Homo sapiens: one gene and its partners. The protein of the gene in region 2 interacts with the protein of the main gene of each other region in a pairwise test. Each region holds a gene or a part of one and is shown on either strand. Other genes may lie near its edges. The genes, in order: CEP76, WDFY3, RABGAP1L, BTG3 and TRIM39.

Region 1 (6,301 bases), on a different chromosome or scaffold from region 2:
TAAATACCCAGCCCTGTGGGAGGCTAAGGTGGGTGGATCACTTTTGAGTCCAGCAGTTTAGGACCAGCTTGGGCAACATAGTGAGACCCTGTCTCTACAAAAATTTTAAAAAATTAGTCAAGCATGGTGGTACATACTTGTAGTCCCAGCTGCTTGGGAAGCTGAAATGGGAGGATTGCTTGACCCAGGAATTTGAGGTTACAGTGAGCTGTGATTGTACCACTGCACACTAGCCTGGGTTACAGACTAAGACCCTGTCTCTTAAATAAATGGTGTATACACACATATACATTATGTGTATACGTGAGGGGTTTTTTTGTTTGTTTTTTTCAGACAGAGTCTCGCTCTGTCGCCAGGTTGGAGTGCAGTGGCGCAATCTTGGCTCACTGCAACGTCTGCCTGCCGAGTTCAAGCAATTCTCCTGCCTCAGTCTCCTGAGTAGCTGGGACTACAGGTGGGTGCCACCACGCCCAGCTAATTTTTGTATTTTTAATAGAGACAGGGTTTCACCATGTTGGCCAGGATGGTCTCGATCTCTTGACCTCGTGATCTGCCTGCCTCGGCCTCCCAAAGTGGTATACATGAGTTTTAATCATGTTATTCATATATTTATGTGACATATAAAGTAAATGTTTGGGCTCTACTTTTTTGGGGTAGTAGCTTGTTTTTTTTAATTAAATTTTATTTTTTTAGAGACAGCATCTCACTCTCTCAGGCTTGAGTGCAGTGGTGTGATTATAGCTCACTGAAACCTCAGACTCCCAGCCTCAAGCAATCCACCTGCCTCAGCCTCCCAAAACATTGGGATTGCAGACATGGACCATTGTGCCCCACCAGGTTCTCCTTTTTAAACTTAACATTATTTTATATGTATTTTCTTATATTTCCACTGTCATATTTATAATTTCTAGTGACTAAAACATAAGTTTATTCTATTATCTGATAAATAAATTGCTTCTAATTTTCTCTTTAAAATTGCACTATTAAAACTTTTAGCCAGGCTAATTAATCTGTAATCCCAGCACTTTGGGAGGCCAAGGTAAGAGGATCACTTCAGGCCAGGAGTTCAAGACCAGCCTGGGCAACATAGGTAGACTTCATCTCTACAAAAATTTTTAAAAATTAACTGCACATGGTGGTGCATTCCTGTAGTCCCAGCTACTGGGGAGGCTGAGGTGGGAGGATCGCTTAAGCCCAGGAATTCGAGGCTACAGTGAGCCATGATCATGCAGTAGCACTCCAGACTGGGTGACAGAGCAAGACCCTGTCTCTTAAAAGAAATTAAAGTCAGAAATATGTATGGATCCTAAATAGATGTCAAAATGTGCTAGACACTGTTCTAGACACTGGAGATGTAGCTGTGTATAGGGCAGCAGACAGCTAGACAGCTTGCTCTCAAGGAGTTTAGATTCTAGTGCAGGAGAAACAATAAGTCAGCAAACAAAATAATCAGATAGTAGAAGGTGTTTTATGGAGAATTATTACAGGTGATATGATACAGTGGTTATTGGGTGGCTAATTATAGGTCGAGTGACTAAGGTAGGGAAAGAGTCTGAACAACAGGAAGTAACCAGCCATGCAAAGATTGGGGCTGAGCTTCCAGCACTGGGAACAGCCTAGAACAAAAGCCCCTATGGAGGACCGAAAGCCCTGTGTGGCTAGAGCGTAGTGGGTTGGGGAGAGAGGAGAAAATGAGATAGTCGGGCCAGAGTTCATAGGCCAGGGCAGGTATTTTGCAATGTGATGGAGAATGAAGTGTTTTAACAAGAGAATGACAGTATGTTTTTTTTTTTTTTGAGATAGAGTCTCACTCTATCGCCCAGGGTGGAGCACGGTGGCATGAACTCGGCTCACTGCAACCTCTGCCTCCCGGGTTCAAGCAATTCTCCTGCCTCAGCCTCCCGAGTAGCTGGGATTACAGGCATGTACCACCATCCCCAGCTAGTTTTTGTATTTTTAGTTGAGATGGGGTTTCACCATGTTGGCCAGGCTGGTCTCGAACCCCTGACCTCAAATGATCCACCTGCCTTGGCCTCCCAAAATGTTGTGATTACAGGCGTGAGCCACCATGCCCGGCTTGTATGATTTACTATTTAAAAATTTCTGGGCCAGGCGCGGTAATCCCAGCACTTTGGGAGGCCAAGGCGGGCGGATCATGAGCTCAGGAGTTCAAGACTAGCTTGACCAATGTGGTGAAACCCTGTCTCTACTAAAAATACAAAAAAAAATTTAGCTGAGTGTGGTGGCACGTGCCTGTAGTCCCAGCTACTCAGGAGGCTGAGGCAGGAGAATTGCTTGAACATGGGAGGCAGAGGTTGCAGTGAGCTGAGATCTTGCCACTGCACTCCAGCCTGGGCGACAGAGCAAGACTGCATCCTCCACAACCAAAAAAAAAAAAAAAATTCTGTCTTTGAGGAAAAAAAGGTGACTTATGATTATTGTATGGAGATGGGATTGTACTAGGGGTAAGTGTAGAAATAGGGAAGTCAGGAGGCTCTTATAGAAGATGATGATGACTCAGATTAGGGTGGTAATGATGTAGAGAAGTAGATAAATTTGCTACATATTTTGTAGTAATTAAAGATAATGAATAGAAATTGAAAAATATTTTTTTCAATTTCAAGCTTGCTTTGGAACGTCAGAAAACTGCAGAGAAAGAGCGATTATTTCTTGTATATGCTAAGCAGTGGTGGAGAGAATATTTGCAAATTCGACCCTCACACAACTCACGACTGGTTAAGATTTTTGCACAGGTTTGTAAATTATATTAGAATAATTTTATGCCTGTATTTGAGATTTACTGTTATGTGTGTAAATTTCATTTAATATTTATTTGTAAAATGTATTCCAAAAAATAAAAGTGTATTTGTAAAATAAAATGCTGATTTTGTAATATTCTCTTTCACTGCATAGTGAGTGGCAAGATCAATCTATGTCTTATTTTACTTTCAATTTCAGTTATTGTGGGTTTTTGAAAAATCACCTTTCTCAGGTTGAATCAATTATTGTGTTTTAAACCCTTTCTGAATATATTTGATTTAAAGTAGATGAAAATCCATTTTGTTTAACTTGGAATGTGTATTTGCTTGATACTTAGTGCTAAATAATTAACCATTTGGACACTTTGCAGGTTATATGTAAATCCAGCTCTTGTGTGCAGAACGGGGGGGGGCTCTGGGCATATATATATTTTTTGTTAGGGTTTTAAAAAAAATTGTATATAACCACGACTTCTAAGCCAGTGACCAGTAATGTTTAACTGAAGCATTTCAACTATATATCTCTGCCTCCATTTTTCCTGAGTCCTAAACCCATTTTCTCTCTTTAACAGACCAATATAAAATATATGGTCAGGTCAGCTAGGCGCGGTGGCTCACGCCTGTAATCCCAGCACTTGGGGAGGCCGAGGTGGGTGGATCAAGAGGTCAGGAGATCGAGACCATCCTGGCTAACACGGTGAAACCCCGTTTCTACTAAAAACACAAAAAATTAGCCGGGCGTGATGGCGGGCTCCTATAGTCGCAGCTACTCGGGAGGCTGAGGCAGGAGAATGGCGTGAACCCGGGAGGCGGAGCTTGCAGTGAGCCGAGATCGCACCACTGCAGTCCGGCCTGGGCAACACAGCAAGACTCCGTCTCAAAAAAAAAAACAACAAAAAATGTGGTCAGGTTCACGTATTTTTTGTAACTCCTAAGGAACAGTTCAAATATTTTGTATATATTCAGCCTCATACAGATGCTTTCATATAAGTATAGTGTAGTATATTATTTTAAGTTAAGTTTCTCAAATCCTGTACATTCATCCAGCTTTACCCTACTTTCCCTAGATTTTGGAACAGGCTAAAAGTGGTTTAGTGTCCAGATGGGGAGCTTGGGAATGAGAGGTTGACTAGAGGTGGGAATAAGGGAAATGGCTTCTGACTTTCTGATAGCGTTGTTTATATATTGAATGACTGGTTGGCAAGGTAACAACATTATCAGGACAAAGGCAAGGAGAAACCAATCAAAATGTAACTGGCTTCCTGGCCGGGCGCGGTGGCTCACGCCTGTAATCCCAGCACTTGGGGAGGCCGAGGCAGGTGGATCCTCTGAGGTCAGGGGTTTGAGACCAGCCTGGCCAACATGGCGAAACCTTGTCTCTACTAAAAATACAAAAATTAGCCAGGCTTGGTGGCAGGCACCTATAATCCCAGTTAGTCAGGAGGCTGAGGCAGGAGAATTGCTTAACCCGGGAGGCGGAGGTTGCAGTGAGCGAAGATCACGCCATTGCACTCCAGCCTGGGCAACAGAGTGAGACTCTGTCTCAAAACAATAACAACGACAAAAAATATACATATATATATATATAAACTGGCTCCCTGCTGTCTATATAGTCTGAGGCATTTATTCATTGCCACGTGGAATTAGGAACTAGAGAGGACTCAGGATGGAGTGAGGCAGTGAATCAGAGAAATGGCAGGATCAAAGAGGAGGAAGAAGTTGAAATGCACTAAGGAAGTCAAGGAAGTGGGATTTTCTTTTAGGAAATATTACTTAAACGACTTCCTCTCTCAGAATTCATTTTAAGATTTGAACCATAGAACGTAATTTAGTCTCATAGTAACCATATAAGATTGTCAAGTGGCCAGGCATTGGCTCTTTTTGTAAACAGTATGAAGGTTAGAGAAGTGAACAGTCTTTTCAAGGCCAAACAGCAACTCAGTCATGGCAAAGTCTGTGTCAAATTGGAGTTTCAACTGGTGCCTTTTTGGTTTATGCCACCTCTTTCCATATACATAGAGTAAATAAAATGCTGATTTAATTTAGATTCCTCAGAACTGTTTCTTGCTGCTTCCTGTATTTGACTAGTTCTGAAATTAAACAACAACAGTGTAAAACAGTCAATCTAATTATAAAAACAATAGTTATAAATCAAAACGTTAATATACATATCCAGGCCAAAAAAATTTCTAATGTATCCAGCACTGAAAGTAAAGTAAAGAACTTTTTTTTGTTGTTGTTGTGAGACAGAGTCTCAGTCACCCAGGGTTGAGTGCAGTGGTGCGATCTTGGCTCACTGCAACCTCCACCTCCCAGATTCAAGTGATTCTCCTGCCTCAGCCTCCCAAGTAGCTGGGACTACAGGCACGTGCCACCATGCCTGGCTAATTTTTTGTGTTTTTAGTAGAGATGGGGTTTCACTGTGTTAGCCAGGATGGTCTCGATCTCCTGACCTCATGACCCGCCCGCCTCGGCCTCCCAAAGTGCTGGGATCATAGGCGTGAGCCACCACACCTGGCCAAGAACTTTTTGCAATGATGGAAATGTTCTGTATCTGTGCTAACCAGTATGGTAGCCACCAGCCATGTACTGAGCATTCAAAATGTGGCTATTATGACTAAAAATAATTGAATTTTAAATTTTAATTAAAATTTAAATAGCTCATAATGGTTAGTGATTTTCTCACTGGACAGTGCCCATTCAGAGGTTGAAATATTAACTTTTCAAAACAGTTAAGTAGCTTGTGGGGATATATTTAGATAATATTAGAATATTGCTGTAATAAAATGATATATCTTACATTCTAAGATGCTACTATTGATGATTGACTTAGGCAAATGCTTCCACTTCTTATGTGCTCATCTTTTCTTGCCTGTTAGTGGATTTGTAAGAATAGGAGTAACAGTCCTGCACCTCAATACTAACCAAAGATCTGTAGATTTGCCGTGGCCATTATACTTAAAAATTCATTATTCTTTTTACCCTTTGTTAGCTGGTTTTGCTATAGTATAGTAGTAATTCATTGAATGATGCTTTTTGAACTTTTTAGTGCAAGAAACTTTAAAATAAGTTACAGAAATTGAACTTTAAGGCCACTAGGTTTTGTTTTTTTTTTTTTTTTTTTGAGATGGAGTCTCGCTCTCGCCCAGGCTGGAGTGCAGTGGCACGATCTCGGCTCACTGCAAGCTCCGCCTCCCAGATTCATGCCATTCTCCTGCCTCAGCCTCCTAAGTTGCTGGGACCACATGCCTGGCTAATTTTTTTTGTATTTTTAGTGGAGATGGGGTTTCACCATGTTAGCCAGGATGGAATTGATCTCCTGACCTCGTGATCCACCCACCTTGGCCTCCCAAAGTGCTGGGATTACAGGCGTGAGCCACCGTGCCCAGCCTAAGGCCATTAGGTTTTAAGAAAATGTTGTAAATCACTTGAGGATTGAGGATATTCTTTTAATATTTAGTTTGTGATTTCAGGACTTAGTATTCTTATACCACACTAGATTATTAGTAATGCTAAGTTCATGTAAAAGAAAACCATAGTTC
Region 2 (6,301 bases):
AAAGCTAAGCTTATTAAAAGTGAATAGAGACAGGCTGGGCGCAGTGACTCACACCTGTAGTATCAGCACTTTGGGAGGCCAAGGCAGGTGGATCACTTGAGGTCAGAAGTTGGAGACCAGCCTGACCGACATGGTGAGACCCTGTCTCTGCTGAAAATACAAAAATTAGCCAGGCATGTTGGTGCGCGCCTGTAATTCCAGCTACTTGGGAGGTGGAGGCAGGAGAATCATTTGAACCTGGGAGGTGGAGGTTGCAGTGAGCCAAGATCACAGTACTGCACTCCAGCCTGGGTGACAGAGCAAGACTCCGTCTCAAAAAAAAAAAAAAAACTGAATAGAGATACAGACTTTGAACCCCTCCCCTATTACCAATTGCCTGGTGCCAATGTGTCCTTTGTAAAGTTGCCTAGGTATTATTCTTTGCTACCCAGATAGATTTAAATACCTTAATACAGTAATACAGTTTGGTAGGTTTGTACTGTATACTACATCCATGTGTAAAGGCTTACACAGCATGAAGAGTTGATATTAAAAGAATATTCTCTTATCAGTTGAATCTTTACAAAGTTCCTTGTAGTTTATATTCTCTTGAAGTTGTTATTTTTTGTGCATGTTCACAGTACTTTTAATTAAGGGTTTGGCCTGGTTTGGCACAATTGATTAATCTTATTTAATACTTAATGTAGAAAGTAAGAAATAATTGTTACATGTTTTGTTAGCATATGCTACACAGATACATAGGCTCTGTCATGTCACCTAAGACTTTTCAAAGGGATATATTTGTATTTAAGCCAAAGAGAAAAATTCTCAAATGAGGGGATGAAATTAGAATGTCAAAAAAAAATGATTTTAGTAACATCTTAATTTTTTTCAGTACTTTTGAATATAGATCATTTATCCTAACAAAATATATTTGTGAGGAGACTCCCCTAGCTGTCACATCCTCGTGTTCTCAGGGAGACTGCTCTGCCCCACAGCATCGTTAGTGGCTCTCCTCCCTGGGAGCTCTTTTTTTTTATGTAGCCCTCATATCATTCATTAGATGATATTGATGTGTCTCATGGGTTCTGAAATCCATAATAGTAAGAGCTTTGTATCTTTTAACTTAGCACCTGCATACTTAGCATGGCATCTGGTATATAATAGACCTAATAAAAGTTCATGTATGAATGATTAACAGGTGTTTTACTTTTGTCTATTATACTAAAAACATACCTTTCATGTCTTTAGTCAAAGAGAAGATCACAGGGATTGTCACTGGATGCAGTGTATCATTGCCTCAATAGGACCATCTTGTACCAGTTCTCACGGGCACACAAAACCGTTCCTCAGCAAGTAGCTCTGCTTGATTCACTCAGGGTCCTCACTGTAAACAGAAACTTGATCCTGGGACCTGGGAACCATGACCAAGAATTCATTAGCTGTCTGGCCCACTGCTTGATAAATCTACATGTTGGAAGGTAAATCCTTTAGGTTCAGTTTGCCATGTTAAATTTGGCTTTGATGTTATTCCAACAAAATTCTTTATTTTTTTTGATAGTAACATTTCTTTTACCCTTACTCTGTTTTATTTAAACCTTTATGTAAAAAGGTAAAGGGCAAGTGTTGAATTTTTGCAGTGAAATAATGGGTATTTTTTTTTCCTTTAACTTAGTTTTCTACACCTTTAAAATTTTCCATTATCACCATATGTCACTTATATAAGGAAGTTTGCTTTTAAAGCAAATAAAATATATACCATTGAAATCTAAGAGAAGTAAAAAGTGAAGCTCAATGCAGTGTTATATGTTAAATGAGTAAAATTAGTATTTTTCAGTTGATTGCTTTGACAGATATTTCATTAGAGTCTGCCGGGGCCAAGCATTGAATTAGGGGCTGGGACAAAATGTGAGTATGATAGACCCTGTGGCAGCCTTCTTGAGGGGAAACAGCTAAGCAAGACCAGTCAGCTGTATTGAGTGATCTGCTAGGAACAACCCAGTGCTTTGGAGGCACATAAGAGGGGCCCCTAACCTGAAAGAAATACCTGCTGAGCTGCAGCTTGAGACCTGGTTGGGGAGGACAAGAGAATGGAGACAACTGCTACTGGAGGAAAGAACAGTCTGTATGAATGCCCAGAGGGAAGAAGGAGTGTGGCACCTCAGGGGAACTGCAACTACTTCACTACAGGAGCAGAGTAGTGAGATATAAGACTGGAGAGAGGACACAGGCATATTAGAAAAATGTTCTTAGTTGAATGAACATTTTGTAATTATTAGGTAAAAATGTTCACAATAATCAAAAGGCATGTTAAATATTAAGGTAATAATCTTGATGCTATAGATCAGTCTAATTACATTTAGTCAGGTGGATTTATTTGATCACCTCTTAAAAATGGCATCTTCCTGGCAAACTAGAATTCTGTTCTGTGCATCTGCTGAGTAGACATTCAGTGTCTGCTGGTAATGGAAATAGAGTAATTCTTAGTTACTGTAGTCTTCAGCTAATCATTTCCTTCATAAAGTTTAAACTGACTGGAATTTTTCAGCAACGTGGATGGATTTGGACTGGAAGCAGAAGCCCGCATGACCACATGGCACATTATGATCCCCTCGGACATTGAACCAGATGGTAGTTACAGCCAAGATATTAGTGAAGGTAATTGCCTTGACTTGGGATGTTTTTAAATTGTGGTTGTTTTATCTCCAGTTTTTAAGACATAACCAACAAATTGGCTTCAGAAACTGCCAGCATTGATAGCAACTCTCCCAGTAGGGCAACCTATACATAAAGAGTCTCCTCATGCCAATAACAGTAAAGCACTAACCAGTAATATTGCTAAGCTCATCATTTCTTAGTAACACTGTGAGATTTGGTGGTGGTATTAATATTTACATTTGCTTAAGTAGAAGTACAAATACTACCTTGGAATTAACTATAAAGAGAACTGCCCAATGATAATGCCAGGCATATCACATTAGAGTAGGCTAATATTGCTTGAGACAGGTTATCAATAGTGCTATTTTTTATTCTTCTTTATACTCTCTCTCTTTTTTTTTTTTTTTTTAAACAAAATCTTGCTCAGTTGCCCACAGTGGAGTGCAGTGGCACTATTTCAGCTCACTACAACCTTTACCTTTCGGGTTCAAGTGATTCTCATGTCTCAGCCTCCTAAATAGCTGGGACTACAGGTGCACATCACCACGCCTGGCTTAATTTTTTTTTGTATTTTTAGTAGAGACAGGATTTCACCGTGTTGGCCAGACTGGTCTCAACCTCCTGACCTGAAGTGATCCACCGGCCTTGGCCTCCCAAAGTGCTGGGATTACAGCTGTGAGCTACCATGCCCAGCCCCTCTCTTTTTTTTTTCAATCTGGTTTTCCCACTAATCCTGTAAGGATTGCATATTGAAGTCTTTGTATGGATTGATTTCTTATTTCCACATGTTTAGTGATAAAGAGAAATCACTCTGGTGGTGTTTGTCTCCCCAGAAATACTGTGCGATAGTTTTACATATGGTTTCATTGTTGAGAAGCCCAGCACTCATTTTAATTTCATTCCTTCATTTAAACATGAATTTATTCTCTGTTCTTTCACCAAAATGTTTTGAACCCTAAACACCAAAGATGCGGTTATTATTTTCACCCCCTGAGGAAGTGGCGTTGGTTCTCATAGCAAGGTCCTCAGAATAGCAACATCAATATCATTTGGGAACTTGGTAGAAAAGCAGATTCTGTTGCCCTACTCTGACCTACTGAATCAGAAACCCTGAGGTGAGGGACTAGCAGCTTGTTATCACAGGCCCTCAGGTGATTGCTGAGGGCCGACTGGTCTGGAGGAGGAGTCAGGCATACAAACAAGGAATCCAAAGCAAGAATGAATTTCATAGTAAAAGTCTTTTCAAAATATTTCTTTTCTTGTGCAAAATATTCAAGAATACTAACTTAGTTTTGAACTCACCTTAAACATTCAGATTTAAAAATTACTTTTAAATGGGGGATAAGTTTTTAATCTAGAAAAAGTTAGTTAATTACATATATATAATTTCCAATTTTATAAATAAAAATGTTCTTTTGTATGAATATAAAGTTTTTTTAATGTTTTCTAAATAGGCAACCACAGTTTCAGTTGTCTAAATAACCTTTTCACTGGGCTAGATACAACATGAGCTTTGTTTTTTTTACATTAAATACTGTAGTCGAAATTCCCACATGTAAACATGAAGAAAAATAAAAACTAACTTTATACTGTGTTTTGATCATTTGCTTACTTTTTTGTTTGTTTGTTTGTTTGTTTACTAGGGCGTCAGCTTCTCATAAAAGCTGTCAACAGAGTTTGGACTGAACTGATACATAGTAAGAAACAAGTCTTAGAGGAACTTTTCAAAGTAACTCTACCTGTGAATGAAAGGGGCCACGTGGACATAGCTACAGCAAGGCCACTCATTGAAGAAGCTGCCCTGAAGTGCTGGCAGAATCATTTGGGTAAGGCCTACAGAGATCATACCACCAGGAGATTTACATGTGGCTATCATATATGGGTATACTTTAAATATGTGACTACAGCATTCACAAAAGGATTCTATAAAGTCATCCTTAAAATCAATATAACAACCATTCTAGAATGATTATACTGAGATCTTAGTTCTCTTTGATTTTTTTTTTTTTTTTTTTAGCATCTGAGGTATGTTATACATCAGGCGTTTATGCATTCAGAATGTAATGCATTGCTAACAGCTCTAGTATTGTCACTGTCTTGGCTACAGGTCCACAATCCCTTAACTATAATTTTGAAATTCAAAAAGCTCTGTTTTTTCATTAATTTGGTGCCAAAACTGACTTTATAACAGAACCTAATTTATCTTTCTTTGTCCTACTTGGTATGGGAATATTCATACATTTTGTTGCAGTAATATTGACGTATTAAATTATAGCTTATTACCATAGATTCTCTGGTGGCATTATATAATCTAGTGTATAAGCTGTATAGCCTTTTAAAAATCCAAATAGTTTCTAAGTTGCGAAGTATACCCAACACCAAAGGTTTTAATTAGGTGATTATGAATTATTAATATAGAAACTCGTTATAGTTAAATTTGCATGTTATTACAGAGCTGTGAACTTTCAACCAACTATCAGTTCAGCTAATACAATTTGCGAGCAGTCATCCTTAAGATTACCAATAAATAAATTTGTGATATCTGAATGTAATATCTGCATCTGTAATATGTGCTACTTTTGTTAACTACAGGGTTGTAGTTTATAACCAGATAAGTTTTTAAAGTAAGACTCATAAATACATGGAGAAATTATAAAATAATCTAATTTGATTTTTTAATAGCCCATGAAAAGAAATGCATAAGTCGAGGAGAAGCTTTAGCGCCCACCACACAGTCCAAATTATCCCGTGTCAGCAGTGGCTTTGGTCTTTCCAAGTTAACAGGATCAAGAAGGAATCGAAAAGAAAGTGGTCTTAATAAACACAGTCTTTCCACCCAGGTACTTTTTTAGTTTCATTGCTGATATTAGTTGTAGTATTTTGTATAATATACTTAACATGTACAAGCAATTGATTGGAAATGAAACTTTTCTGTATTTTTGCTTTAGAATAGAGATAGAAGTAATCCAGACTATGGGAATTTCTCTCATTTTCTTATGATAAAACTATATATGAGTGCTATTTACTTATACCCATTTTATAACTGGATATAAGATGAGATTTAGAGATTAATGTATGATCAGACTATAGATAATTTTCTCTCAATTTTCCCAGCTTTCAATAATGTTATTACTAATAATTATATAAATTTTAAGGCAATAGCCAAACAAGCCTTTTTTAATTTTTACAATCTTGTTGTGTATACCTATGGTTTTTTAAAAGCTCATCTGCCTCCAGCATTAACTTCTTCCTCATCCTACTTCCTTCACCATCCCAGAATCTAAGTGGCAGCTATGAAAAGGATCTGAGAGAAATAGTATGTGTCAGCCATCTCATGCATCAGGTTAGGTTTTCTAGGAAGCAAACTCTGAGATGGAGTTTAGTGTGCATAATGTATATTAGGGGGTGCCCTTGGGATCAATACCTGTGGAAGGGAGAAGAAAGCAGGATTGGACATAGGGAAAAGTCAGGCTGCAGTGCTGGTCTAGTGACAGCCTCAGCCAAGCTAAGTGGAGCTTTGAGGACAGAATACCCTCTTATAATTGACCTCCATTAAGCTGAAATGTGTGAGTCTTCTTACCCCTAGATCGTTGGATGTGGGGCACCCCGTCGGCCCTCTGCAGCTAAGGCCATCCCTGAGGGTGTTGAGAGCAGCCCAGACACG
Region 3 (6,301 bases), on a different chromosome or scaffold from region 2:
GTGTTAATCAGTTTGAATAAAGATGGACCTTGACCCTGAGGACTTTATGCTTAGGTGGGGGATTAAATATGGAAACAACAGTGATAATGAAAGGCAGAAAGTAATGGGTGGTAAAAAGATAAAGATAAGGAACTATAAGAGTTTAGAGAGGAGGGAGAGATTACTTTTATTTTTGTTTGTTTGTTTGTTTTTCGTTTTTGACCCAGGCTGGAGTACAGTGGTACAATCTCGGCTCACTGCAACCTCTGCCTCCCAGGTTCAAGTGATTCTCCTGCGTCAGCCTCCCTGAGTAGCTGGGATTACAGGCGCCAACTGCCACACCAGGCTAATTTTTGTATTTTTAGTACAGACGGGGTTTCGCCATGTTGGCCCGGCTGGTTTTGAACTTCTGACCTCAGGTGATCCATCCGCCTCAGCCTCCCAAAGTGCTGGGATTACAGGCGTGAGCCACCGTGCCCGGTCTACTTTTAGTTTTAAGGATAAAAGAAGAGGTGACATTTGAACTACTTTTTTTTTTTTTTTTAATTTGGAGACAGCATCTCACTCCCGTTACTCAAACTGAGTGCTGTGGTGCCATCACAGCTCACTGCATCCTTGATTTCCTGGCCTCTAACAGTTCTTCTGCCTCAGCCCCCAAGTGGCTGGGACTATATAGGCACACACCAACATGCTTGGCTAATTTTTCATTACTTGTAGAGACGGGGTCTCATTATGTTGCCCAGGCTGTTCTTGAACTTCTGGACTGAAACTGTCCTCCTGCCTCGGCCTCCCAAAGTGCTGGGATTACAGTTGTGAGCCACCACGCCCGGCCCCTGAACTATGCTTTGAAGAATGGGTAGGATTTGGACATGTGGAAATAGGACAACTAGTATGAGAGAAAGGCCTTTCTGGGCCAGGGGCCAGGGTGATCAAAGGCATACAAGCATAGACAGGGAAAAATGAGTAGTGAAAGAGCTAGGCAAGAAAGAGTCCGTTAGCACCAGATGGTTAAGAGCCTAGAATGCCAGTTTTCCTTTCTGCTTTTCAGTTTATCTTTCATTTTTGACTCTGGAGTAATCTAGTACTTCTTAACATTGAACAGGATTTATATGTTATGATTAAAATATGATCCAGAGAGCACATAAGTATCCTTAGAGTAGAAGCTGAAGGGAAAAATTATTAGTGTTAGAGAAGCAACCTTGAGTTTACCAATCCTAAAAGTGTTGGAAAGTGAAAAATATTTTATTTGTAAGGAGAGACAGTGTTTTTTTTTTGTTTGTTTTTTGTTTTTCTTCATTAGCGTCAAATTGGCTGTAGTAGAACAGGAAGCAGTTTTGAAAGTCTTTACAAGGGCCTTCTAAAATGTGATTTCTAAATGACTGGATCTTAATTTTTGGAGGCAGGTTTAGTTCAGGCAGAAGGGTAGTTTATACAGATCTGCAGCTAAGCTGAGTAGCTTTTAGAATTTAGGGCAGCAAAGCAGGGTATTTTATACAAAATCCACTTGTAAGGAATTGATGGCTTCTTTATTCCAAGAATTTTCTTAGATTTCAGCATTTATGTCTTTGACAGCCTGTATGACTGAAGATGTTTTGAAGTCTTGGATGGAACTTGCCTTGTTTCACAGGGGAATTGGGTAGCTAGAAATGAAGGTATAAATGCCAGTAAGTTGTGTCTGTTAATCAAGTTGAAGTACTGGTGGCAGTTCTCAAGCTTTTCTGTCTGCTGATGATTTCACACTTACTGCTTCTAATTAAATAGTGTGTAGTCGATTTGAAGAAGCCTTGCTTCTCTTTGACCCACCAGTTCTGTAAAGGTAAAAGCCTTCTTAGAGTGTTGCCCAGGTAACAACACATACAGAGACTGCTTAATAGCTCATCATGGAAGTGTGTGGAAAATTTTGGAAATGTTGGTAAAGAAGTTGCTATAGTAAATAACTACTTGGTTGGTAAAAAGCTGGGCTACTTCTGGATAGTTGATAAAGAGTTTTTGAGATGAGCCGTGGTTCTAAAATAAATATGAATTGTGTCATTGCCACACGATTTTCTTCAGTTATGTAAGCTCCTAATATGTAAATGTTGTCCTACCATTTTAGAAGGTGTCAGCAGTTTCATGTGACCTGTTCCACAATATAGCACACCCCAAACACCACGATAAGAGTTCAAATATGGCATGGCCCAGATGCCTCACACCAGTTAAATGATAAAGCTAATCATGTCAGCACAGTGTTTCTGTTAAAGTTTTTTCCCCCTCTTTTTTGAGGCATGTTAGTTTTCACGAATTGAGGTTATTAGAATCTTTCCAGATTTTCTGCCACCATTTTTTTTGTGTGTGTGGTAAAAAGTATAATGATGGTGCCCTTAATTAAATTATGTAAACATTTGTAAAGATATACACGCATACACATAGTGTGCATATATGTATGTGTAGACATACATACATATATATTTACATATCATTAGTTCTTGGAATTTGTGGTGAAAATACACCCACCTGGCAAATGGTTGAAAACAAGTGTTCTAGCTCTTTGAAGACTACCATGTGAGTATTCACAAATATGAAAGTAATGCAAACCCAAAGGGAGTTTTTGTATGCCCAATTTCAAGAAAGGAGCACATTTTAAAAGGCAAGTATGGAATTCATTCATATACCAGTGAGGAATTTCTCAACTTCTCCTTTACCCCACACATACACCCGTTTACCATTCTCATTATTAGCAGTAAGCAAAATTAGAAGACTTTAAGAATCAGACTTCTACTACAAGTGATGCAAATAAATATTATTTTTAGAAAAAATACAAACCTGTGGTTTTGAGTTATGAAGGTTTAAGAGACACATATCACTAGTTTTTTTTATAAACTACATGGAGTGTTTTCTGTGCTTCAAGATGTCGTAATTGTCATTGTGAGGCCTTTTGCTGAGAGCATTGTATAAAGGAATAGTTGTTAGAATGGTTATTAGGTGTTTCTTTGAATAGTTTATTTTTCTGTAGTCAATTTATCTTGCATACATTGATGGCCGGGGGTGGTGGCCCACACCTGTAATCCCAGCACTTTAGGAGGCCAAGGCAGGCAGATCACTTGAGGCTAGGAGTTTGAGCCTAGCCTGGCCAAGATGGTGAAACCCCACCTCTGCTAAAAATACAAAAATTAGCCGAATGTGGTGGTGTGTGCCTGTAGTCCCAGCTACTTGGGAGGCTGAGGCACAAGAATCCCTTGAACCTGGGAGATGGAGGTTGCAGTGAGCCAAGATCGTGCCACTGCACTCCAGCCTGAGCTACAGAGTGAGACTCGGTCTCAAAAAAAAAAAAAAAAAAAAAAAAAATTGAATAGAGTATACTACTTTAGTGAAAAATTGACCATTGAAAAATCAACCATTGAAGGGAGGTTATATATATATTGGCAGACAGTAGGGTTTCTGAAGTTGTTTTAGAATAATTTTGTTATTGAGCAGCTGTTTTATCACCAGACCTCATTCATTTATTATTGCTTTTTTCCATTTTTTTTTAAATCTCATGAACTGTATTCTTTCATTTTAAATCTCTCATATTTGCCCTGAAGTCAGTGGTCATATTTGGACTAATGTTTTGATTTGCTGTTGTCTGCGCAAAGATCTATTACCAAGTTGCATGATCAAGTTGGTATTGAATGGTAATTCAGTTAATGTCTTCTTCTCTCCATTCCTTTTTTCCTTCTGTATTCTAGAAGTTACCTTAACACTAGTGTGAGATTCCTGGCAAAGTTAATGGGGAAATGAAATTAAATATTACTGTTATTCAAATCCTAGGGTGACCTTTTTGCCAACACTAATGAACATAGAAAATTTTTCAGCATGAATTATGCAGCTTAAATTTTCACTGAGGCTAGGCCTCTTAAGTTTAAAAAATTAAAAGTTAAAAAAATATTTATGGGGTACAAGTGCAGATTTCTTACATGTATAGATTCTTACATGTATAGATGTGGTGAAGTCTGGGCTTTTAGTATACCCATCACCTGAATATCCACCATTCTGTATGTCCATGTGTACCCATTGTTTAGCTGTCACATATAAGTGAGAACATGCGGCATTTGACTTTCTGTTTCTGAGTTATTTTACATATGATAATGTAGGCCTCTTAAGTTAAAAAACATTCTGACATGCATTTTATAGTTCTTGTCAACATTATCAATAGCTTTGATAGATGAAACAGGTTTCTCCTGTTGCAGTTGGTATCACACACAATAAATTAGCCATCCCTACCATTTGAAAATATAAAGGTGTTTTTTTTTTTTGACACGGAGTCTTGCTCTGTCGCCCAGGCTGGAGTGCAGTGGCATGATCTTGGCTCACTGCAGCCTCTGACCTCTGCCTCCCAGGTTCAAGCAATTCTCCTGCCTCAGCCTCCTGAGTAGCTGGGACCACAGGCACGTGCCATCATGTCTGGTTAATTGTTGTATTTTTAGTAGTATTTTCACTATGTTGGCCAGGCTGGTCTCAAACTCCTGAACTCGTGATCTGCCAGCCTTGGCCTCCCAAAGTGCTGGGATTACAGGCGTGAGTGACTGTGCCTGGCCCAGATAAAGTTTTTTTAAAAGATAATCTAGTAATAGTAGGAAAGAGAAACCAGTTTATCAGTTAATCTAATACTTCCTATTTTGAATATAAATTTCATTGTGTTGCATGGTAACTTCATTATGTTCCACTGAGTATTTACTTTTCTAAAGACAGACCTTTAACAATTTTTCCTTTTTTTCATGTTTTGGAGACAGGGTATCTCTCTGTTGCCCAGGCTGGAGTGCAGTGGCACGGTCATAGCTCATTGCAGCCTCAAACTTCTGGTCTCAAAGCGATTCTCCAACCTTCGTCTCAGGAGTAGCTGGTGGGACTATAGGACTGTACCCACCACACTCTGCTAATTTTTTAAATGGGAGTCTCCCTATGTTGCCCAGGCAGGTCTCAGACTCCTGGGTTTAAGCAATCCTCCTGCCTCAGCCCTTCCAAGCATTGGAATTACAGATGTGAGCCACTAAACCCTGCACAATTTTTCAACTTTTGGGAATTTCACTTAGAGGAGGATAATAGTAGCTTTTAGACATTTTTATCAGTTATCCAAGGGTGGAAAAAAATACTTAAAATGCAAGTAACTACAAACATTTTTGGTTTTGTGGGAGACAGTGTAGATAGAACATAGAACCTTAATTCTTGATCTAGTGCTGCTGTGAAATTCAGAGAGAATAAGTAATTTAGACACAACTTCTTTCTCCTCTTTGCACATTAACCATGAGCTAATATTGAGTGTTTACATGGGGTAGTTATTACATAAGAAAATGTACATTATCTCGCTAATCTTCACAGTAACCATATGAGGTAGGAACGATTATAATATCATCTCCAGTTTGCAGGTGAGGAAGCAGGATTAGAGAACTTCAGTAACTTACCTAAGATCACATAGCCAGGCGCCGTGGCTCATGCCTGTAATCCCAGCACTTTGGAAGTCCGAGGCGGGCAGATCACGAGGTCAGGAGATTGAGACCATCCTGGCCACATGGTGAAACCCCATCTCTACTAAAAATACAAAAATTAACCAGGCGTGGTGGCATGTGCCTGTAATCCCAGCTGCTCGGGAGGCTGAGGTAGGAGAATCGCTTGAACCAGGGAGGCTGAGGTTGCAGTGAGCCGAGATTGCGCCACTGCACTCCAGCCTGGACAGAGTGAGACGCTGTTTCAAAAAAAAAAAAAAAAAAAAAAATCACGTAGCTTGTGAGAGGCAGTTATCTCTTGCTTCTAAATCTGTCTCACAGTGACTCTCTACTACTACTCTGTATTGACAATCTTTAAATGGGATGGTACTTGTTTTGCACATTTCATAGGATAGTTATGAGAATCAAAAAAGATAAGATGTACAAAAGAACACACAGATGTCTCTGGTGTATTCATTTTATTGGATAATATTTGAGACACCAAAGAAATCTTTGAAATCTTGTACACATATTTGTTTGTAATCAGTAATGCTATAAAATAAGTTGAACAGATGAATATTTGAAAAGTTATCTATAAAGACATATTTTGTGTGGGTTCAAGGGATCTGTGAGTGAAAGGTAGAGGAATGCAGAAATGTAGGGATGTATTATAAAAAGTGGATCAGATGATCTCTAGCAGCCTGAATTCTTTCTGCAATGAGGAGTATATGTAAATAACAGGTGACCTATAAGATCCTTCCAACATCAATAATCTATGAGTCTTTGTTATGGGTTACTTATTTTCTGTTAGAATATCCTCAAATTAGCGAGATATGCCCAAAAGAGCTTTTTAATTTTATTTTAGCTTAGATCATCAATAATCA
Region 4 (6,301 bases), on a different chromosome or scaffold from region 2:
CACAATTATAGTGAGCTATGATCATGCCACCGCATTCCAGCCTGGACAACACAGCAAGACCCTCTCTCTAAAACAAAACAAAACAAACAAAAAATAAATTCCTAAACAATTGAGTTCCTCACAACATAAAATTTGTGTTCTCTAATTTCAAGTTTACTTAGCATAAGGTTTTAGCAATACACATTTACTCCATGTCCCCTCCACAGTTGGAAGACTCAACAAATTTCAAGACAATCAAGGGTTAATTCATGTGTTAATGACACTAATATAACAATGACTTAGGCCTATCTTCAGTTTTGCCCATTAATGGAATCAAAATTCAAAAATGGAAAGGCAAGAAATTTGAGAAAAATTCCTGCCTTTGTAAACAGAAACCTCAACCAAGGGCAAATATCTAATGATTGAAGGATCAGCATTATTAACTCAGATTTCTTTGACACCTAGTTTGGTTCTGCATTTTTCCCTTTGTACTATTTTGGTATGAAGGCTCTCTCTTCATGGTAAGAGAAGCTGCTGACTATACTACTATAACATTACAATGTGCAGTCGATATCTTAGGAGAATTAGTAGACACCTGGACAACTTTTAAACTTTCCATTTTTCAATGATCACTGATAAAACATCAAGGCTAATTTAGTTATTTAGAAACAATCAATAGTATTTAACACTCTATTGGGGGAAAAAAAGGATGGCAGAAATCACCAAAAAAAAAAAAAGTTGTAAAATATGTTGAGTAGATAAGCTGGCATCTGTTCTCAGAACTTCTCATCATAGGCAAGATTTATTTTCTATTCTGTATCACGAAGTGATAACCTTTCTAACTATATGGCACTCTTTGTACTCTTGCAGCATTTTATTCTATCAGAGTAAGTGAAGACTATGAAGAATGTTCTCAGTGCATCTCAATTTTTTTTTACAATCTTAGTCTCTAGTATACCAATGAGTTATTATTTTTAAAGATTCTCAGATATTTGATCAATTGTATACTTGCTAGATCAGCTTTAATTTTCAAAATATCTATGTTTCCAGTTTTGGTGAAAAAATATTTCTCAATGTCTTTTTCTTCTGTTAACTTATATCAACCACCTCTACTAAACGATTAATACGTCTTTCTTTTTGGGGTTCTGTTATTGAATGAACACCTGACACTCGCAGGTGATTTCTATTAGCTGTGAAAAAAATCACATCAGAGCCAATTTTTGGCAAATTTACATATAAATTAGAAGCCTACTGAATGAAAAGGTTTTCTAAGATTAATAAGATGAAAGCAAAGTAGCAGTTTTTTCCTACCAGGCATCATCAAGTAATGAAATGTCTACTGAAGTAGAATGTCCGTATAACTAAAGTTTTTATGTTCAGGTACTGAGACTTATTTTAAGCATTTTAAATACATAGGTCCAAAATGTTTATATAATTATGTAACTTGTTAAACATCCTTGGACATAAAAACTTTCCCCTGATGGTTTAGGATCATTATATTGAACGTAAACTATTTGATTGTGTGATAACATAATCGTGCTGATTTTTTAGCTTTTTCATTTTTGCCTCTATGTCAGACCACATGACATTTTTTGGTAGCGTCTGACTCATCAACCCTCTTTAAAATGCTGCTTCTCACATTTCATGGGTTAAGAAACCACACAACTAACTTAACTGTGTGTTAAATAGGAGCCAACTAGGATCTAAGTGCAGGTCAAATTAAAAAGTAAACAATTCAATATAGTAGCTTTTTGACAGCTATTTCTTATAAATGGAGGTCTTCTGCACAGGTTCAGTGGCCAAAGTTTTCCAAGTCTGAAACTAGCCTAAAGCAGGTCCTTAATTAGTCCCAGAATCTAAAAATGTTTATTTTCTCAGACCTAAATTTGAGATAGCTTGCTCCTTTTCTACCCGAGAAAGAAGTATTGGAGAATGTTTATCACAAACCTCTACCACCTACATCTGGTTTCCAAAAGCAATAAACTTACACCAACCACTGGCAAATCAGGTAGTAACCTCAAGCGGTGGTCCTGACAAAATTTAATGGAAGAATAATCATGTAATTCATCTCTCCTGTCTTCACCTCCACCTTCATTGCTGGAATCAGGTCAGTCTGCGACCACCTTAGGAGTACATAGTTAGGGTTCCTTCAAAAAGCAACTTTACTACAATCAATAAAGAGGCCAGGTGGTCAGGTGAATTGTACCTCAAAACCAAATAGAAACATCCTAAAGGCAGAGCCACAGGAAAATTCTTGCAGGAATTCCATGCCTCTGTTCATCTTCTTCCTGCTAGTTAGAACATCCTTCCCACCTTGTCACCTGGTCAACCATGGCTCATCCTTCACCTCCCAGCTCAAGTATCACCTACTCAGTAGTCTCCTGACTCCTCACCAGATGCAGTAACTTTCTACTTTGTGCAACCTACCACTGCATTTTGTACACATTTCTAACATAAATCAGATAACAATGTAATTTGCTTACTTTTCTTCTCAATTTCAAACTGAATTACCTAAAAGCAGAATGTTGCTTTCGTTTTTGAAAACCCTACAACTGAGAGTGCCTGGTCCACAAATAATGGTTTTTGAGCAAGTGGAGTTCAAAAAGATTTCATACCTAGCACTGATCTTTCACAACTCTATTCATTAGGAGATGTGAAAAATAACTTCCATTATAAAAATAAAACCACGAAGTATCACTCAGTCACTTACATAATCAAAAAGGAGGAGGCCGGGCGCAGTGGCTCACGCCTGTAATCCAGCGCTTTGGGAGGCCAAGGCGGGCGGATCACGAGGTCAGGAGTTTGAGAGCAGTCTGGCCAACATGGTGAAACCCCATCTCTACTACAAATATAAAAAAAAATTAGCCGGGCACAGTGGTGGGCGCCTGTAATTCCAGCTACTCAGGAGGCTGAGGCAGGAGAATCACTTGAACCCGGCAGGCAGAGGTTGCAGACAGCCAAGAATGCACCATTGCGCTCCAGCCTGGGCAACAAGAGTGAAACTCCGTCCCAAAAAAAAAGAGGAGAGAGGGAGAATAAACAGAAACAGAAACAAACCAAAAGTGGTTATCCAGTATTATTTGGGATTAGCTTCTTAATTTGAAGACAGACAAGTGCACCACCAATTAAAGATAATAGACACCTAGCGGAATCTAGGTGTCTACTTCTTGGTCTACAATAAGCTTCTTGGCAAAGCACTACTAGAAAACCCCCGCCTAATCAGTTTCTTTTTTCGGCTATAAAGCAGAAATCTAACTAGTCCTTCAACATCACCTCCAGAAAAGTATTTCATAAAATTTACATCTGAGAGAGTTAAACCACCAGCTCCTGGCCATAAAGATACACAGGCAGGCCGTACATGACAGAATGTCATAAAATTAGTTCCAGCATGGTCATCAGTTCAGCCTCTAAACTTGAGAACTCACCGACAGCACACCTCACATGGGTCCACCCAGAGAGTGAGCTCCTTTGGCAAGCCCAGGTCACTATACAAGATGCAGCTGTTTTCACAGGCTTTCAGGACATCAGGATCAACTCTCTGAAATTTATTGACACGAATACATCTACAACAAAGTGGAGTTACGTTAATGGATTTAAATGAATTTAATCATAAACGCCGTAATATCTATTCATACTTGCCAAGGTGAGTAATAAAATAGTAATAAAAAAATACCCTGGTAGAGAACCTAGGAGCATATCTATCCTAAACAGATAATAAATGTGAACTACAGGCACAGAGGCAGCCTGAAAAAAAGATGGCACCTATGTGAGCCCAAGGAAATCACTAGTACTGGGTCTACCTCAGTCTACCCAGAGACTTGACCACCCATGTACATTAAATGAGCACGGAGTATGAAAGTTGCACGAAATTTTAGAACTCTGAAGGTAAAAGTTTCTATAGGCCAAGTTCCTATACAAAAAAATCTCTAACAAAAGGCCTCATCTAATGTTTCAGATGGTATTTGGAAATGCTTACGACAAATTCTGATCTGTCATTAACTTGCTTTTATATCTCAGATAGTAAAGTGGTAAGAGGACACCCTTGCTTTACCTATAATTGTTCTATAAATACAGGATAAGTGAAGGACACAGATTCATTCATATCATATACTTATGATTAAAATACCTAACTAACATGTTATTGGCTTATTTCATTTAACTTCTATTTACCCAAGCACTTTTATTTAAATAGTTGTCAAAATTAAGTGAGGAAAATTTCTAAACCAATAAAGCCTCTGTCCCATCTTTTTTTAACCTATTATACGACATCTACCTAATGGAATGTTTAATAAATAAAAAATATGCATTCTGTTAAATGATAAGCATTCTGATTAAGTAGGGAAATAGGGCCTATGAAGGAAAAGTATTTACTGCCTACAATCAAGAATCAATCAAGAGAACTTGGATTTCAGCACTAATCCTAGTATTTATCAGGTAAGCCTAGTTAAGTCACTGTACCTCTTCCTCAGACCTGTAACTATAAAACATGGAAATACAAGTTAATTGATGAATAGTAATTACGCTGTAAAATACAATGATATAAAGACTAATGTGCTATTTAAAGTTTTTGTAAAAGTTAAATTATTAGTTGGTTTTAATTTCTATTTAAAAAATGAAAAAGTTCTCAACAGGTAATAGGAATAAGTGTTTCTACATAATAATATTAACAATAATAAGCATTTTAAAAAATTTATTATGCAATGGACAATTTCCTAAATGCTTTGCATGTATTAACTCTTAATTCTCATGATCATCCTGTGAGTTAGATACTTTTTTCCTCAGCATAAAGAAAAAAGGAGGCAGAGAGAGTTTGAGTAACTTCCCAACATTACACAGCTACTAAGTGATGGATCTAGGGTTCAAATCCAGGCCACTAGACTCCAAAGAGCAAGTTATTTCCTTAATACTCAACCCTGTATATACGTACCTATCTTAGCGTCACCATTAACAATATAACAAAGGCAAAGTGAGAAAAATTATTTTCTAGTATGTAAAATACTGCTTAGTCCTTTTAAAAACATGGTCTTATGCTATAGATTCTAATATTGTATAGGGTAATTTGAAAGATCCCATGTGCTCTGGGACCAAAAGCAGTTAAGGATAAAAAGATATATCTTAGATGTATGTGTTTTTCTTATCTACAATTAAGGTGATACAGGCTCTAAGCTTACAAATTATATATAAATATAGATGCTTAAACAGAGACTATGCTTCAACAAAATCTGCATACCTTACATGTTTTGTACTATTTTTTTTCACTCTACATACTACTTATCCATTAACTACTCTTCAAAAACAAAATTTTAAAAGTTGCATAAAAATATTCTATCATTTACTTAATGTTGACAGTTTAGTTCTTTCCATTTTTGCAATTACAAAGTGTAAGAGACATCCATATTCATACATGTTCGTCTGCATTTCTAATTATACTTCTAGAATAGATTCTTGGGAGACTTACTGTTCAAAAGGTATGAATATTTTTATAGATCTTGATAATATTGCCAAATTGCTCTCTACAAGTATCTTATTTATATTGCAGAAAAACAATTTCAACTTACAAACATTTTGTAAGAGAAAGAACACTCCACCTATTCTACAGACTGAAGTCTCTACTAACTTGGTTAATCTTATATTCTATTCATTTTTATAATAGTAACAACCCACTATTTTTTCTACTTCAAATACAGCTTTAAAATGACTCAGTAATGATACTTCTGATCACATGCCAATTTAATCGTTTCAGTTTTTTTCTCAAGTTTTTAGAATTAATGGAAATGAAATTGTACACTGTCTGACCTTTAAATATTTACTTGACAGTGCCTCCTTTTTCAGTAATAGTATGGTGGCTTGGCACTTCCAAAAAGCCTTCATCCAATGTCAGTTAAATCAGAGTAAAAAGCCTCAACAGTTCTAACTTAACGAAAGCTGTTCACTCTATTGGAAATGAAAATATGCAAAAAAAAAATTAAGATAATCAAGAGATAAGATAAAAAATGACTTGAGCCTGTGTTAGCGTGCACATTTCTATTTTAATTCATTTTCCAATTTACTGGAAACCTCTTTGGATTAAAAATGAAAAGGAAAATAAACTATTTTGATTCTCTTCTTGTCAATAGAACACAAGCTCACTTGACTTTCAGTACATGAGAAATTAGCAAATAATATGTTTACCTCCTTTTTAGACTCCTTGAATAGTGCTGTACTTGCAAGAGCCCAGTGGCAGAAAGGAAGTCCTTCTGACATCAAAGCACAAAGTGTTGATTTGTGTAGGAAACTTTGGGGACATCAATATACACAAATAAAAGAGTATTTCTGTAGTTAT
Region 5 (6,301 bases), on a different chromosome or scaffold from region 2:
TTACAGGCGTGAGCTACTGTGCCCAGCCAGTTATTGATGTTTATTAACTAATGCAAGACAGGGGATACCAAACCGTAACAGGAATGTGTGATTTGTTCCTATGCCACCAGTCTGGAACTCTCTGTACTTATCCTCAAGGAGAGTGAGATATGTGGTTGGTACTTGGGGGACAGAGTAAAGAATTGATACAATCCCTGTCCCTTATAGGGAGCTCCCAGCATCCTTGAGGAGCAAAGACAAGCATAAAAGAAATCATTGGGAAGTGATATAAATGACCAAGCTTCATGATGACCAGAAGTTGAAAGTAGGGATTAGGTTGGGAGAAGTGCATTCAGGTCCCGCTGGAGCTCTTCTTGCACTGTGTGACCCTCAGTTTATCCTATCCCTATTTTATAGCTGTGGAACTTTGGGGAGGAGGGGGAACCTTTTGCCTTCAGGACCACTGAATACCAGGACCAATATTGCTTTCTTTTCTCCTTCCTTCTAGGATGTCAAAAGTACCCTGGAAAAGTAAGTGATTGTTGTATCTCTCTGAGTGAGTTAGGTCTTGGCTTAGAGAGGAGGGGTACAGTCAGGAGTTTGGGTTGGGGGTGAGGTTGGGAAAGTCATGTAGTGTGTCTGGGCAGGGTATGGGAGAATGTTCATTGTGCCCATGAAGCCAGTTAGAGAACAAATTATTGGGAATAATAATCCCTTTTCCCCTTTGAACATCAGGACTTCTTGAGAAGGAGAATGATAAGGTAGAATCAGATTCTACTTGTGCCAGTGGGTGGAATTGTGTCCAAACAAGATGGCAGGAGGAAGGGGTTGGGAGAGCAGGGAGGGCAATCATCCATTTGCATGAAATACAGGAATATTCCTAGAAAGTTCGGAGGCTCACTCTCAACGATCTGTCCACGGGATCATAAGGCTCTCCTTGGATTAGTAAAAGAAATCAACAGGTGAGCTTTTCAGGGAGGAGGAAGAAAGTGGGAAGATGGAGAATTTTAATTTCTCCCTAAAAATGTTAACATCTGAATAGTCACTTGGCTGGAGCTTCTCCCTAACCCTGCCCTTTCTTCCCCTATCTCCCTATCCCTCCTAGATGTGAAAAGGTGAAGACCATGGAGGTGACTTCAGTATCCATAGAGCTGGAAAAGAACTTCAGCAATTTTCCCCGACAGTACTTTGCCCTAAGGAAAATCCTTAAACAGCTAATTGGTGAGTTGTTCCCAAAAGGAAACTAGAAGAAACCACTAGAGAGAAGAAAGTTTTTAGGTCCTACCTTATATGGGTTTCAGTTATCCTATGTCTCACTTTTCTTACTCCCACACACACCTACCCCTTTATCTGGCTTTTAGTCTCACCCTGAGTCACAGAACTTGGAGTGAGAGGAAGCCTTAAGCGTTATCTACTCTTAGGTCCATTCTTTTCTAAATAGAGACCCAGAAAGGTTAAATAATTTGCCAAAGTCATCGGGTAGAGTGGTTATATAATTTACCATGTAAACTTGCATAACCTTCAAAGGCCGGGTGCGGTGGCTCACATCTGTAATCCTAGCACTTTGGGAGGCCAAGGCTGGTGGATCACTTGAGGTCAGGAGTTCGACATCAGCCTGGCCAACACGGTGAAACCCCATCTCTACTAAAAATATAAAAATTAGCCAGATGTGGTGTTGGGCGCCTGTAATCCCAGCTCCTCTGGAGGCTGAGGCAGGAGAACTGCTTGAACCTGGGAAGCGGAGGTTGCAGTGAGCTGAGATCACACCACTGCACTCCAGCCTGAGGGACAGAGTGAGATTCCATCTCAAAAAAAAAAAAAAAGAAAGAAACTGAAAGGGAGTGTCATTATATTAATGTGAATATGCAGGGAAAATAGTCATAAACCAGGCCAGTTCCTGGAAAACACACATGGTCACCCTATCCCTAGACCATATGCTGTCTTGCTCGGCATCCTTCTTAACACTTTCCGTTTTTTTCTGCCCCTCAGACTACACCTTGTACTTCTCTACATAGTGAGATAAATGATAATGTCAGAGGGAGATGAAGAGAGGACCAGGCGGGAACCTAGATTACCAGCCACTGCAGACTCAAGAGATTATTATCTGTTTACTTTAGGGTCAGGGTGAGAAGTGAGCCATTGCTTTCTCCCCTTCCTTAGGTGACACCATGGATTGAGAAAGTTAACCAAACCAGGTTGTTCTGGGGACCTTTAAGGGACCAGGCTCTGTAAAGGCAGGCTGGAAGAGTGAGGCAGGGGCATTTAGCTATTCCCATCCTCATCTAGCTCCCCACTCTGGCTTCTCCCGCCAGCGGATGTGACCCTGGACCCTGAGACAGCTCATCCTAACCTAGTCCTGTCAGAGGATCGTAAGAGCGTCAAGTTCGTGGAGACAAGACTCCGGGATCTCCCTGACACACCAAGGCGTTTCACCTTCTACCCTTGCGTCCTGGCTACTGAGGGTTTCACCTCAGGTCGACACTACTGGGAGGTGGAGGTGGGCGACAAGACCCACTGGGCAGTGGGTGTATGCCGGGACTCCGTGAGCCGAAAGGGCGAGTTGACTCCACTCCCTGAGACTGGCTACTGGCGGGTGCGGCTATGGAATGGGGACAAATATGCAGCCACCACCACACCTTTTACCCCTTTGCACATCAAGGTGAAACCCAAGCGGGTAGGCATATTCCTAGACTATGAGGCCGGCACACTGTCTTTCTACAATGTCACAGACCGCTCTCATATCTACACCTTCACTGATACTTTTACTGAGAAACTTTGGCCCCTCTTCTACCCAGGCATCCGGGCTGGACGGAAGAATGCTGCACCACTTACCATCAGGCCCCCAACAGATTGGGAGTGACAGGTTGGGATGTGGGAATGACTGGGGTGAGGCAGGGTCAAGTGCTACGGGCCTCCTTCCCGTGTCCTGCTGGAACGTCTTCGTGTCCACCTGGGTCCAGTCCTGAATCATCTTGGAGAAACACCTTGGTTTCTAGGATGGTTTTGTGTGGAGGGGGAGGTAGGACTGGGCTGGATGAGAGAGCACAGCTGTGACTTCCTCCTAACTGTCAGGGTGGGGAGCTGGTTCCCAGAGGATTGTCTACCCTGAAGTCCATCAGGTTTTCTGTTGCACAAGGACGGGTCAGGAAGGAAGGAGAGGCTTTTCCAGAAACAAAAAATCTGTGAGGGTCTGACTTGCTCAAACCAGAGGAGGAAACAGAAACCCCTGCACATCTTTTTAGGGGGTTCTTTGACCCAGGATAGTCTTGCTTCTTGAGGTAGATCACAGGGGTCTGTGTACCTCTGAATTCATGAGAGATGAATGACAGATGCTCTCATGGGTCTAGATATTGAGGAGTTTTTCTGAGGGCAGAGATTGGACATCAACAAGGCTAGAAGGGTCAGGGAAGTGGGCTAAAGGAACAGATTCCTAGAGATTAATGAAGAGGAGGGAGGTTTCTTTGGTCTTCTATTCCAAGGGTAAGGTTGCGATTATGGGTAAGATTGGCCAGAGGTAGGAATGTGGGGAGAAGGAGAGGCTGAAAAGAAAGCAGAGGAGAACCCAGGTCCCTGCCTCAGCCTTCAGCAGAGTTGGCTTATTGCCTGCCTCTATACCAATAAGTCAGTCACCTTGCTCCTCTCCAGAGGCAAAGTGGAAGAGATCCTGCAAGACACATCTATCCTTTCACAGTGTTCCCAAGGGAACTTGGAAAGGAGAGTCAGGTATTAGAGGAAAGAGAAGGGTATTTGTATACAAAGCCCTGGCCTTAAAGAATGTTACTTAGTAGCTACTCCCAAATTGTCAGCCTTCTTACCTGGCCAAGGTGTCCAAGCCAGAAAGGAAAAAAGGTTATGGAGTCTTTCTCACCCTAAGGACAGGGTGGAAGAGGGTGGTATATAGGGAAGGGCCAGATAGGCAACTTCATTTGGCTTGTGTGCATCTGGCCTGGAACTGGTGTTAAGCCAGGCTTTTGCTTGTTTGTTGCCATCCCTCACCCTTTGCCATTTCCCTTTTCAGAGAATGTAAATGATTTTCATGTTAGGCCAAAATAAACAACTTATAGGGTACATATGTTGTCATAAAAGGTAAAAGTGATGCATGCCAAACCAAACTAAACCAATTTGGATTATCTGCTATTCGGGTAATCTTCACAGAAATGACTGAGAGAAGAATCTGCAGTTTACTGAGGGCATTTCAGTTCCTCCTACCACCTCAACAGGACTTTGTCCAGACTCTCCTCCTCTTACCTTTGTGCCTTGACTGTGGTTCTTTGTGGCAAGATACTTTGGTTGGTTAAAATAATATGGAACAAAGGATCCACTGAAGTGATCTCTGTGTTGTGTGGTAATTTGGTGACAGCCTTGTACTGATGTGTAAGAATCACTGGGTGTTAGACATGCATGTTCCTGGGTCTCACCCTTAGTGGTTAGTCAAGGTCTGGGGTGGGCCGGACATCTACATTTTATTTATGAGACAGAGTCTCGTTCTGTCGCCCAGGCTGGAGTACAGTGGTGATCTCAGCTCACTGCAACCTCCGCCTCCCAGGTTCAAGCAATTCTCCTGCCTCAGCCTCCAGAGTAGCTGGGATTACTATGGACTATAGCCATGCACCACCACACCCGGCTAATTTTAGTGGAGACAGGGTTTTGCCATGTTGGACAGGCTGGTCTCGAACTCCTGAACTCAAGTAATCTACCTGCCTCAGCCACTCAAAGTGCTAGGATTACAGGTGTGAGCCACCGTGCCCAGCCTACATCTACATTTTAAACACACCACTCTCATTTGAGTCCGAAAACCCTTGTGAAACTAGTTCCAGAGGAGGTTTCAGCCATGTCCTTCCTCCCAGCTGGAGCCCTGCTTGTCTGTCCCCGCCTGGCACTGGGTCTGAAATTGGAGAGAAGTCATCCTCTCCTGACTTATGCTGCCCTCCCCATCTCAGGGTTCATTGATCTTCTACCCCTCCAATTCATGTCCCTCTGCTTCTGACTTCAGTAACTGATAGTCACTATGAGTCACAGGACACCAGACAGAAGAACTGGAAGATAGAAGAGGTCAGAGGGAGGGGTGTGAGGTGAATGTCAGTGTGGGGAGTGGGGTGAAGTTTCAGGGGCAGGGGATGCTGTTGACAGATTTCTGTGCTGTACCTAAGCCTAGGAGTTAGAAACCATTCACTCAGAAAGTGAGGATCACCTACTGTGTGTCCAGCACTGCATAACAGGAAGTGTGTTTCTTTGGTAGGTGGAATAGTAGGAGTAAACTGTGCTTTCTGAGGACCGGGAGTCCTTTTCCCTCCCTCCAGCACCCTCATGATCCTTCCCACTTTCACCCCCACTGGCACCAGTGCTTTTTTTTAATGTATTACCTCTGTGCCTTCCGTCTGTAGATCTTACAGGCATCTGCCTCGGACCTCAGGAGAGTAGGGCAGAAGCTCTAGCTGGGTATAAATTGCACATAACCATCTCCCCAACGTAGCTACATAAAGAGACCAGCCTTCTGTCCTGAAAATGGCCGATTTAAGATCCTCACCTGCTCCACTAGGTCTCTAGGTGATATAATTGGTCATGAGCTTGAGGAAGACAAAAGCACTGAAAATTCATAAAGGGACCCTGGGCATGGATTGCTGGGGTTGTGTTTAGAAACCGATGAGTTTGTGAGGCCTCCGGGAGGCTCCCGAGGGCGCGGGGACTACGTTTCCCAGGAGGCCTCGCGCGGACGCCCGGGCGGGGCTGTGCGAGGGGTGGGGCTGCGGGAGGCCCTGGAGCGCGGCGGTGATGGCGGGGCCGGTGAAGGACCGCGAGGCCTTCCAGAGGCTCAACTTCCTGTACCAGGTGAGTCTGCGACAAGGGCCCCACGGGGACGGTGCTCGGCGTCCCAGAGTGACTGCTCCCCTCCCGCAGGCCGCCCATTGTGTCCTTGCCCAGGACCCCGAGAACCAGGCGCTGGCGAGGTTTTACTGCTACACTGAGAGGACCATTGCGAAGCGGCTCGTCTTGCGGCGGTGAGACAGCCACGGGGCGGGCGGCGGGCGGGACGCGGGAGGAACGCGAGAGGGAGCGCGGGCGCCAGACCACTATCCTCCTCCGCCCCCAGGGATCCCTCGGTGAAGAGGACTCTCTGTCGAGGCTGCTCTTCCCTCCTCGTCCCGGGCCTCACCTGCACCCAGCGCCAGAGACGTGAGTGCTCCAACGGAGGTGGAAGACTGCGGAGCATTGGGGGCGCGGAGGGGGGCGGGGTGGGGGGCGGGCACTGGAGGCCAACAGCGCCTTTCTCACTGTAGATGGATGTTGGGTGTGGGATTCGCAGGAGTCTTCCTTCTTCGGG

Evidence for each region.
Region 1: the proteins of WDFY3 (region 2) and CEP76 interact in binary tests that used the Homo sapiens proteins (3 or more experiments, as listed by UniProt).
Region 3: the proteins of WDFY3 (region 2) and RABGAP1L interact in a two-hybrid assay, tested with the Homo sapiens proteins (one large-scale study listed by BioGRID and IntAct).
Region 4: the proteins of WDFY3 (region 2) and BTG3 interact in a two-hybrid assay, tested with the Homo sapiens proteins (one large-scale study listed by BioGRID and IntAct).
Region 5: the proteins of WDFY3 (region 2) and TRIM39 interact in binary tests that used the Homo sapiens proteins (3 or more experiments, as listed by UniProt).

Annotation. Positions count from the first base shown.
Region 1 is NC_000018.10:12,687,811-12,694,111, reverse strand, and holds part of CEP76 (centrosomal protein of 76 kDa), read left to right. Parts: intron 1-2,624; coding exon 2,625-2,753; intron 2,754-6,301. UniProt on the Homo sapiens protein: Centrosomal protein involved in regulation of centriole duplication. Required to limit centriole duplication to once per cell cycle by preventing centriole reduplication.
Region 2 is NC_000004.12:84,735,346-84,741,646, reverse strand, and holds part of WDFY3 (WD repeat and FYVE domain-containing protein 3), read left to right. Parts: intron 1-1,230; coding exon 1,231-1,460; intron 1,461-2,527; coding exon 2,528-2,637; intron 2,638-4,280; coding exon 4,281-4,463; intron 4,464-5,319; coding exon 5,320-5,477; intron 5,478-6,301. UniProt on the Homo sapiens protein: Required for selective macroautophagy (aggrephagy). Acts as an adapter protein by linking specific proteins destined for degradation to the core autophagic machinery members, such as the ATG5-ATG12-ATG16L E3-like ligase, SQSTM1 and LC3.
Region 3 is NC_000001.11:174,164,988-174,171,288, forward strand, and holds part of RABGAP1L (rab GTPase-activating protein 1-like), read left to right. Parts: intron 1-6,301. UniProt on the Homo sapiens protein: GTP-hydrolysis activating protein (GAP) for small GTPase RAB22A, converting active RAB22A-GTP to the inactive form RAB22A-GDP. Plays a role in endocytosis and intracellular protein transport.
Region 4 is NC_000021.9:17,601,456-17,607,756, forward strand, and holds part of BTG3 (protein BTG3), read right to left. Parts: intron 3,543-6,301; coding exon 3,405-3,542; intron 2,822-3,404; coding exon of another isoform or gene 2,690-2,821; intron 1-2,689. UniProt on the Homo sapiens protein: Overexpression impairs serum-induced cell cycle progression from the G0/G1 to S phase.
Region 5 is NC_000006.12:30,339,421-30,345,721, forward strand, and holds the end of TRIM39 (E3 ubiquitin-protein ligase TRIM39), read left to right. Parts: intron 1-487; coding exon 488-510; intron 511-851; coding exon of another isoform or gene 852-941; intron 942-1,084; coding exon 1,085-1,200; intron 1,201-2,291; coding exon 2,292-2,839; 3' UTR 2,840-4,309; downstream 4,310-6,301. Other genes in the region: TRIM39-RPP21 protein, read left to right, coding at 488-510, 1,085-1,200, 2,292-2,476, 5,878-5,978, 6,071-6,153; RPP21 (ribonuclease P protein subunit p21), read left to right, coding at 5,752-5,808, 5,878-5,978, 6,047-6,153.